3 separate regions of the Homo sapiens genome follow, and all the other regions are reported to be linked to region 3. The links are microRNA targets in miRTarBase. Many come from high-throughput screens and were not tested one by one. Region 3 holds a microRNA gene; each other region holds the end of a gene's coding sequence.
The links. Region 3 holds the annotated microRNA hsa-miR-1266-3p (CCCUGUUCUAUGCCCUGAGGGA, at 2,857-2,878, opposite strand). A microRNA usually pairs through its seed, bases 2 to 8, with sites in the 3' UTR of a target mRNA and lowers its output. Matches are read on the target gene's strand: a 7mer-m8 pairs with bases 2 to 8, a 7mer-A1 pairs with bases 2 to 7 and ends in A, and an 8mer does both.

Region 1: miRTarBase lists JAGN1 as a target of hsa-miR-1266-3p. Seed matches in the 3' UTR shown: 7mer-A1 at 1,616-1,622.
Region 2: the mRNA of PTAR1 is a reported target of hsa-miR-1266-3p. The part of its 3' UTR that is shown has no 7-base or 8-base seed match.

What each region holds. Positions count from the first base shown.
Region 1 is chr3:9,892,920-9,895,919 of GRCh38, reverse strand. It overlaps JAGN1 (jagunal vesicle mediated transporter 1), which reads right to left. Exons shown (of 2, transcript NM_032492.4): 2 at 1,571-3,000. The coding sequence ends at 2,543. Among named protein-coding and RNA genes, the nearest start is that of JAGN1, 3.8 kb to the right of the region's middle.
Region 2 is chr9:69,715,723-69,718,722 of GRCh38, forward strand. It overlaps PTAR1 (protein prenyltransferase alpha subunit repeat containing 1), which reads right to left. Exons shown (of 8, transcript NM_001099666.2): 7 at 2,928-2,962; 8 at 1-2,846. The coding sequence ends at 2,620. Among named protein-coding and RNA genes, the nearest start is that of PTAR1, 43 kb to the right of the region's middle.
Region 3 is chr15:52,274,275-52,278,872 of GRCh38, forward strand. MIR1266 (microRNA 1266) reads right to left here and starts at 2,926; the gene lies at 2,843-2,926. It overlaps MYO5C (myosin VC), which reads right to left. Exons shown (of 41, transcript NM_018728.4): 5 at 1,288-1,444.

The DNA of each region.
Region 1 (3,000 bases), not on the chromosome of region 3:
AAGACCAGTCTGGCCAACATAGTGAGACCCTGTCTCTATTAAGAATACAAAAATTAGCCAGGCATAGTGTCACATGCCTGTAATCCCAGCTACTCAGGAGGCTGAGTCAGGAGAATCGCTTGAACCTGGGAGGGAAAGCTGCAATGAGCCCAGATCGAGCCACTGCACTTCAGCCTAGGGAACAGGGCAAGACTCTGTTTAAAAAAAAAAAAAATTAGGCCGGGCGCGGCGGCAGGCGCCTGTAATCCCAGCTACTAGGGAGGCTGAGGCAAGAGAATCGCTTGAACCCGGGAGGCGGAGGTTGTAGTGAGCCAAGATCATGCCACTGCACTCCAGCCTGGGCGACAGAGTAAGACCTTGTCTCAAAAAAAATAAAAATAAAAAAAATAAATAAAAAGAATTGCATGTTTTTCACACCTCCTGTGCAGCACCTAAAAGCAGTAAAATAAGAACTCAGAGAAGGAATTCATGTTCCTTGAATTGAAGGAACCAGAAAGCTCAAGAATTGCCATATTAACTGGGCCTTAAAGGATAATTAATAAAGCAGTATAAAAATAGAAAAGGGAAATTTTTAAGCAAAGGAAACTGGGAAACCACGAAACCTACATGGGGATCCATAAGAGGTTTAGTTGACTAAGACAGCATGAGACTAGGGGTATTGGGAGATAATGCAGGACTGGTGGATTGGGACCACTTTGGAAACCTCAGAGCTTAAGGCATTTAAGTTGCAACAAAGATCATAGTAGGGACTTAATGATCATGGAACAGATAATCCAGAGCTGTACTCTTGGTATATACTCACTTGAACAAAGGGATGCAGGAAGAGGAATGGGTATGAGGCAGAAACACAAAGGTCTGTTTGGGACATACTTATTTTGAGATGATAATTAGGACATCTAGAGGAAGAGGTTTTAGAGTTGTAAGTACTGCCAGCCAGGCGCGATGGCTCACACCTGTAACACAAGCACTTTGAGAGGCTGAGGCAGGAGAATCACTTGAGCCTGGTAGGTAGAGGCGAGCCAAGATGGCGCTACTGCATTCCAGCCTGGGTGAGGGAAATGAAACACTGCCTTTAAAAAAAAAAAAAAAAAAAAAAAAAAAGGCCAGGCACGGTGGCTTACGCCTGTAATCCCAGCACTTTGGGAGGTTGAGGAGGGCGGATCATGAGGTCAGGAGATCGAGAGCATCCTAGCTAACACGATGAAACCCCGTCTCTACTAAAAATACAAAAATTAGCCGGGCGTGGTGGTGGGCACCTGTAGTCCCAGCTACTTGGGAGGTTGAGGCAGAATGGTGTGAACCCGGGAGGCAGAGCTTGCAGTGAGCCGAGATCGTGCCACTGCACTCCAGCCTGGGCGACAGAGCAAGACTCCGTCTCAATTAAAAAAAAAAAAAAAAAAAAAGTGACTCAGTAATGACTAACTACATACACAATGTTTCTAGAACAAAATAATGACTACATCTCTGGAGAGGGCAGAGCTCTGCAGTTACAGATCTGGGCATCATCCAGAGACAATAAAATCAAGTGCAAAGAGACACATTATCTTTCATGCAATAAATACTGCCAGAATTTTAGGTGTGAAAGGGCCTTTAGTTTAATCACAGATCTCTTCCTTCCTGTTTTTAATGTACTTGCTCCACATCATTAGATATTATGTTCACTGTTTCACATGAATAACAAGTTTCTACTGAATTGTAAATCCCTATAAACCGAGGTACTTTAAAATTCTTTTGGATGCCATTATACAGTAGTAGACTCATAACTGATACCCAGTTAACACTGAAAGATAAATGTGAATATCCAACTAAAAGAAGAGCCCATAACCTAAGGTAGATAAATGAGAATGGACTATTTCATAGATGGAGAGATTAAATGTCTGGCCCATAGTTCTTACCAATCAGCTGTAGGTTACAACTATGACTTAGGTTCCCCATACCCAGTCTACTTCTCTATGGCCACTGCTAGGTTTCTCAAGGAGCTTCTACCCATCATCTCCTAGTGTCTAAGGCCACACCTTTCAAGCAACACACCTTTCACACTCTATCAAGCCCCAAACACAAGGCACAGTGTGGGCAGGGCCATCTTTATTGAGGTTTTTAATTAAAATGCTTTGCAGAGGAGACCACAGCCTGCCAAGGGAGCAGCTGCCCAAATGTTTCCTGACCCGTGACCTAGAGATGAAGTAATTTGATTTATTCCCTATTTCCTTTAGTCTCAATGGCTAAGGGGTAATGGATGGAAATGGGGAGAATGACCGAGTAGAGGCAAGGACGAAGCTCATTCTTAAAGAAAAACCTCAAAGTTCAACTTCAAACAGCTGAAATTTGTTTCATAGCTGTTGGTCACCCAGTTCTAGCCAACCAGGAATAAATTATAGTTTTGCCACCTCAGCAGATGGCAAAAGGAGCTTTCCAGAACTTTGGCCTGGTCTGCACCAGGTACCAACATCACAGCTGCTAAAATCACCAGAAGGGATTTTGGAACCGCTGTACTAGTGTCCTTTCATTCGATGGGATGTCCAGGCTTCACCCCAAAGAGGCTTCATTTATGCTTCTTCTCCTGTGTGCTGGTGAACCAAGAGTCTAGGAGCTTCTTGCTGTAGTACAACTGCCAGGCATGCACTTGCACTGCCAACACCAACACCAGGTACATGATGGAAACGGCAGAAAAACCAAAGAGGAAACGGTAGGCCTTGCCATGGCGGTAGAGCTGCTGTGCAGCAGGGAACATCTCCATGCTGCCATAAATGAGTGGAGCGATGGAAAAGAGTCCCATGCTGATCATGGAGAGCACCAGGTAGCTAATGTTGTTGCGGGGAAAGGAGAGAAGGCCCAAGAGAGAGGGCAAAATGCTCAGCAAATACGGGTATTCCCACTGATAGGGCATGGCCACCTGATCATGTGACAAGAGCCTCAGGTGTCCCACGCTCATCTTAGCAACCAGCAGCAGCCATATGACCAGATGTACGTAGATCAGCTTCTTGATTTCATACTTGAGAG
Region 2 (3,000 bases), not on the chromosome of region 3:
ATCATGCTACAGCTAGCGGGTTTAAATATTAACCACTTAGGAAAAAAACCAACCATATAGGGCAATATTAGGATTTTCTGTGAATGAACAATTAAAAAATGCAAACTCTAGAAATAAAGCAGCACACAAAAGTTACATACTAACAGTATCCTTTGGGTATTTGCATTTTTGCTCTCTACTTTAAACTTTTAGGAAGGAAACAAGACATATTAAAGGACTGTGCGGCTTCAGAAAAGAGTGGGTTAAGAGCCTTAGAAGATATGAAAATAGTTTACACACCAAAGATAGGCAAGATAATCAGTGGAAGGTACACAAAGGCATGGAGCACTATAAAACTTAGCTAGTGTTTTATAGGGTATTGTCTACACTCATTTCCTGACATTTTTTCACATCAAAGCATAAGCCCTATTACTCAAAATGTGAAAAATGATTTTTAGGAAAAAAGGTAATACTGAGTTAGGCCAGAATCTGGCAACATATTTTAGTGGAATGGGCTGAACCACCCATGTCTTCTCTGTGTAGTTTGCCCCCAAACACTCACAGGAGCTAAAAATCATAAACTTATGATTTTATCCATAGAGGTCTAGGTGGACCTTGAGGTATTTAATTCAAAATATGCTTTGTACACAAAGGGCCATGGAATTATGTTCATAATGGTATTTTTTCATCTAAATAATATAAAAGCTATAAAAAGGTAATTTTTTACTTGAGAGAAGAACAAATTCTGTCTACTGGGGCCAGGCTAGACAACTTTTCTGGCGTTCTTAAGTCTCAACTCACTTCAACAGTCTGCCACTCAACAAAACCATGATGCCAAAGAAAAGGACATATTTCTTCTTCTTTAAGGCAGTCTACCTAACTCAAGTCCAGGCTTTCCGTAACAGTGAGAGAGAGGTTTACTTTCCCTACATCTTTATCCCCACTTTACAAATTACCTAGCAAGTAAAAAGAACAACAGGCAAAGCATTGTTGTCACACTTATTTCTGCCACTATTACTCACATTCTGCACAGATAGGACAACTGACAGCTTCCATCATTAGGGAAACTTTTAGAAGGGCCACTCTTCATATTTCTGGTATATGAATGTATTTTAGATGAGGTATGAAATTCATTGCAAATAGGGGGTAGAAATCTTGAAGACACACCCCTGAAGTAAGAAAGGAAAGGTATACAAAAATGACACACAAAAGTGACAAAAAATACGTAATGGATTGGCAAAACAAAGTATATGAAAAGAAGAAACAGACCACTTACAAAAGGGCAAATATAAGAAAGCAGACATTACATGGCCCATTCCCCACCCTCATCCCACCTACCTGAAAAACTCAGCCCTTGTTATTGGAAACATAAGATACGGCTATAATGTGGATACTTTGGTACCTCATCCCTGATTAAGTTCAGTATCAAAGTGTTTTGTTTTGCACATACTATTCCTTCCCTTGGCATTTGCCAGTAAACTTTAACAGTCACTTCATGATAATTTTATAGTTTCCATAGTGTATCCTCAATAATTTAGATTTTTAAAAAGGAATATTTTTATGGATCTATTTCTTTATATATTTCTCCCATTTGTCATAAGTGAATTTGAAATTAAAAAGTAGTAATAGCTAAAAATGGCATTCCAGGTTTTCAGGAAAAAAAAATCAATTTTATAAGGACTGATGTGTTTTGGCATATACCAAATTTGAGGTAAAAATAATCTATCAAAACTAGCAATAAAAATAATTTTCCTTTACTGCAATTACATAAACTCTTAAGTTAGTTTTTTCTTAAATAACCATTTAAAAAATGGATTACATTGGAAGCATTTTTTTCATATAAATTCCAATACTTCTGACTTTGGTAATTGGGTAGAACATGCTAGAGAAAGAGAACTAGTTTACATTTTTAAACATTCGCCCATCTAGCCATTTGATTCTCAAAACAATTACATCAAGTTATTCGGCATTCATACCAACATTCTTCAGTTGAACTGCAACATAAATGTTTATTTTCAATTTGTTTTAGAGACAGGGTCTCAACTCTATTGCCCAGGCTGAGTACAGTGGTGCAATCATGGCTCACTACAGCCACAAACACCTGGGGCTCAAGCAATCCTTCTGCCTCAGCTTCCTGCATAGCTAGGAACACAGTTGCATAGCACCATGCCTAGCTATTTTGTTTTACTTTTTGTAGAAATCGGGTCTTGCTATGTGGCCCAGGTTGGTCTCAAAGTCCTGGGCTCAGGCAATCCTCCTGCCTAGGCCTTAAATTTTTAATTTTTAAAAGAATTTGCCTATGCAGCAATTGGACTGAGGGGGGTAGAGGTGTGTGTGTGTGAACCAATCAGGAAAACCAAATGAGAAGCCCCACATATAGAAATACAAAGGGTGAGAAGTTAAACAGAAAATTTAAGACTCGCTGTTCAGCAGGAAGGAACTATACGATTATTTTATCCCCACAGGAATGCCAGTTATTAACAAAATAAATAAAATGAAAGATTTACTATGGACTTTCAACCTAAAGACGAAGAACATATGGTTAGCCAATAATAGTAAACAGTTCATGCAACTATGTAAATAATAAAAGAAAGCAATATTGCACTAAAAGGGGAACCTTGTAGGACTAATTCACCTCTTTCATTGACTCAAAGTAACCAGCCATTTCCTGTATGCACTGGCAAACCTGGCTTGCTCCACGTTCCGACAGGTGGACAATACTTGATCAATGAACCTGTGCTCCATTTCTAGGCCTAGGGAGTCTGGAACTGGCGTCCGCTTCAGGCGTTTGGTTTCCTGGGAATAGCCTTGCTTGCTAGAGTCATTCAGTCCATCTACTTCCATTGCTTGAGACAGCTGGGAGCCTGCTGGGATAAGGTGCAAGTCACTCAAAGTCCCCCCAGGGCTGTCTGCAGGTGACAACTGGGTCATGCTGTGAGGAAACCTACCATTTAAGTGATGCTGAAGGTAGAAAATATGCCGCCTGCGATAGAGAGGGGAAGGAAGAGAATAAAGAAAATC
Region 3 (4,598 bases):
GGCTCTTGATAACTTTTATTTTGAGATGGGGTCCTGCTCTGTCATCCAGGCTGGAGTGCAGTGGTGCAATCTTGGCTCACTGCAACCTCCACCTCCTGACTCAAGCAATCTTCCTACCTCAGCCTCTTGAGTAGCTGGGACTACAGACATGTGCCACTATACCTGGCTAATTTTTTGTATTTTTGGTAGAGATGGGGTTTCATCATGTTGCCCAGGCTGGTCTGGAACTTCTGAGCTCAAGCAATCCACCCACCTCAGCCTCCCAAAGTGCAGGATTATAGATGTGAGCCACCGCACCCAGCCTTGATAACTTTTCTATTGGTATCTTGGATTGTAATTTATGTTTCTAAGTAAGCCTATGCCTCTGAATTATGAGCTTTGCAGTGTTTCTTAGTACCCCCCCCCCGACATATGTTTCTATTTAATTTTAAAATATTCTTACATTAGGTTAGAAGAATCTTACACTTGGAGATTGGGTCTTATTCTTTTCCATCACTTCCCACATTAGCTAAGCAGTGACTTCAACAGAGTAGATTGTCTGATAAATATTCATTGAGGATTTTGATTTGAGAAAACAGGGAGAAGAGGTCTAGTAGTCTAATATTCTTAATTTTTTGCTTTGCTTCCAAATAAATTCAAATCAATCCTCTTCCCATTTTGCGGGGCAGCTGGAGTTGGCTTGCAGGACCCTCCTCTGTGCCTTTTGGGTGCCTCTTCTTCCTTGAGGGCTGTCTCCTCACCCCCCTGGGCACCGTCACGGTTGGCCTTGCCCACTCTCTGTCCCAGTCAGTAGTGTGCTGATGAACTGGCTCTTGGGGAGGGCAGGAGGAAGAGTCTTGACATGTGGCCTCTGCCAAGGCAGAAGGTATAAATACTTCTCCCCTGACTGATGTCAAACTACCAAAGGTTTATCAATCAGCTTGCAAAATTCCTGAATATTTTAACAATCAGCTCATGAATGCTGATGCCAGCTGGGTGGAGAACACCAGTGATTTCAGTGTACCAGTGATGTTTGGTTTCCCCTGGGATGTAAATGTAAACAGAGGACTCCTGGAGTCTGATGGTAGATTTCCAGCCCAGCAGGTAGAGCAGAAGAGAGCCTTGAAAGTAACAATTCTGCCCCCATCTCCTTCAAATCCCACCAGCAAATAGGCTTCCCGGGTCTTTCCTGCCCTCACTTCTTTAGTCTTTAAAGGGTGGGAACTTGAATTAGCCAGGAGAGCACACAAACCAACCAACCCCCATTTCCATCACCAACACCCAGCTGCCTTCCGCAGTGGTACGCACCTCGGTGATGGGATTGGATGCCAGGACCTTGTCTTCCACGTGAGCGTTGCTGCCCGATTTGCTGACGGTGGCAAAGTACCTCATGGCATAGCGAGCCGACACTGTCTTTCCAGCACCTGACTCCCCACTTACAATTATGGACTGGTTTCTGTTGTTTCTAAAGCAAATAAAAGTTTTCAAATATTAGTTTCTTCCCATTAAAGAGGCAACATGTGCTAATTAAGACAAATGTGGACAAGACAAAAGAGGGAAACTGTTTTGTCACTCTACTATTTTTAAATCTCAATCAATTTCCTTCTAGATTTTTTTTTCTATGTGATCGTGCAGAACACACAATTTTAAAAGTTCACATCTTTCATCCAACCTTATTCAAATCCTTACTCCTTACTGCTTCCCTACTCAACCTTTCCACTCAACCAAAAAACTGCTCCTTCCCATCCTTCCCACTCTCTGGGCAGGATTTTTGCTTTTAAACTCTGTTCTTGAATTTCACCTCTCATTTCATCTCTCCTCTGCCTTCCCCACCCTCTCCTGAGCACCCTCTTTCTAGATGGACCCTGTGTAGGTCATCATGCTGCCTGTCAACATGTATTTATTGAGTACCATGTTGAGGGGCCCCAAGACCAACCTCAGGTTCAATGACCCAGTAAGAGGACTCTCAGGACTCAGCATATAGTCATCCTCACAGCTAAGACTGATTGCAGCAAGAGGATACACAGCAAAAGCAGCACGGGGAAAAGGCACACGGGGCAAGGTCCAGTGGAACACGGGTGCAAACTTCCAGGGGTCCTCTCCCAGTCGGGTCACACAGGACACATTCAATTCTTCCAGCAAGGAATTTGACAGCACATGTGAAATGCTGGCTGCCAGGGAAGCTCATTAGAGATGCAGTGCCCACCTTCTGCCTAGCATATGCCAATATTCCAGACTCCCAGAAGGAAAGCACGTATTCAGCATAAAGCACATTATTTACACAAACAGCTTGAGTTTAGGTAAAATGAGCCACTTTTTCAACCAAGAAATGTCAGGAACCGTCATGAAATCAGAGGCTAGCCATGGGCCACCTTGCAAGCAGGCCTCTAAAGATAGCAGCCTCAGGCCTTATGTCAACTCCTTTCTGCACATCCCACTTAAATATAAAAACATTTCAAGGACATTATTTTGAGAGCAATTATTCAAAAGATGCTTGGGAACATATGCGCTCTCTAAGCCAACATGCTCTGTTATATAATTTAGAGATTTTTTAAAAATGCATTAAACTTTTCATGTCATAAGACTGTGATGGTGGAAGCTTCTAACATGGCTCTGTGGATGTGGCACCGCTCACATGCCAGGTGCTGGGTGAATACAGATTCTCATTTAAGCTTCACAAAAATCCTACGACATAGATATCTCTTTTACAGAAGAGTAAAATGGTGACTCAGGGGTGGAGTGACTTGACCCAGAGCACAGAGCCACAGCCTCCCATGTAAATGCTAGAGGAGACTTTGGATACAGAGCCCCGGTCCAATATTTTCATTTCAAAGAGAGAAGATGAAGACTCTGAGAAGTGAAATGACATGCTCAGTGTCCCTCAGGGCATAGAACAGGGCTTTAGTAATCCCAGCCCTGTTCTACAGCCCTGAGGGACACTACCTGTCTAGCATCAAACAAGGCCAACACGAGCCTGCTTTGGGCTCCGTTCTGTTATGGCAGTTACACAGACAGACCTCCAAGGAGAAACTGGCTCTTTAGGGCTGAAGTGAGCACAGCCCTACAGTGCCAAAGAGCTCATCCCACCCATACCCAGTCCCTAATCACCACGATACCTGGGAGACCTACAGGGAGCCAGGGAAAAATCTCAGAACCACAGGGGTTTTAGGGTTAGAAGGAATCTTGGTGCAGCGGAAGCTGCTAATTCTCTACCCAGTATGCATTTGCATTCTCCTCTTCCTTCTTAGGGACTAGGCCCCAGTGGCCAGGCAGTGCCCCTCTGTGCATTTGAAAGACTGCACATCCCAGCCTCCCTATGTGAGTGAGGTCTGCCTGACGAGCTGTTAGAAGTGCTTTGTGGGGCTTCCAGAGAGTCTCCTTAACCTGGAGGGCCATACCCTTCCCCTCATATGCCTTGTTACCTAGAATATGGAAGACAGAGGTGAGAACTGGCTTGTCCCTGAGGATGACGGCCCCACCCCAGGGACAGGGAGCTGCACGGCACCGGGTCTCTGATGACTCTGAAGAAGCTCGGTCTAGCCCCAGACTGCCCATCAGACATCTGTGCAGGAAAGCAGCACGTGTTCTACCTCATGTAAGCACCACCTGCTCCCTCATTATAAGCATCAGAACCAGGAATGGGTGCCCTCTGAGAGTCCAGCTCACAGACGAAGACATAAAGCGGAGGGAGCTCAGGAGCTGCGGCTGGGGTTATGCAGTAAAGATTTAGGTAAAGAGTCAGCAGGTCCAGGTCCTGTGCCTCAGATTTCCCATCTGTGAAATGAGGGCAATGAAGTCAGTCAACTTCACAGGAGTGCTGTAAGACTCAAGGGAGACCACTGTATGTGAAAGTTCTTTTGCAAACTGTAAAGGCAGCTACAAAGATAGGGTGGTGTTTCTATTCTCCATACTTTACAGATGAAGACACTGAAGCCAAAAGTGATAGTTATGGGAAAAATAAACTAGAGTTTAAAAATCTGAGCACAAATCCCAGATCTGCCTTTTACTTGCTGCCTACCCTGGGTTGGTTATTCCCTGAAGCTGTTTACTGCCCAGACATTTGCATCGTGGGCTATTCTGAGGCCATCCCAGATGACACATGGGAATGTGTGCACGGTGCCTCATTCACAGGAGGCTTTTCATACATGTGCACTAGTGAAACGAGAACTCCACAGGGCCCTACAAACACCTAGCAGTGAAATTAGGATAAAATTCCATGTCTCCTGCACCTAAAACCTCCTGCAGCTAAAAACCCTGTCATCAGATCCTACTTCCTGCAATGGGTAAAAAAAAAAAAAGCTTAAACGTCTCATAGCAGAGAATAAATCAACACTCCTCCAACCAAACACACTGCAAGAAAAGCATCTGCTATTCCCAGACTGGTAGGACTGACTTGACTACCTTGAAGGAACAAAACCCAGGAAACTCCAGTCTTGACAGGTCAGGTACATGGAACAGTCGTTTGCTATTCATTCCAGGTAGTCGGCTCAACAAAGCACCACCTCTGGCCTATCTCTTTTAATGAGCCCAACCTAGATATCTCCCCTCCACTGTGATGGTCTGGCAAATGCAGGGAGCATTGGCAGAGCAAGGGGAAGTCCAGCTTGGCAGGAAGCTAC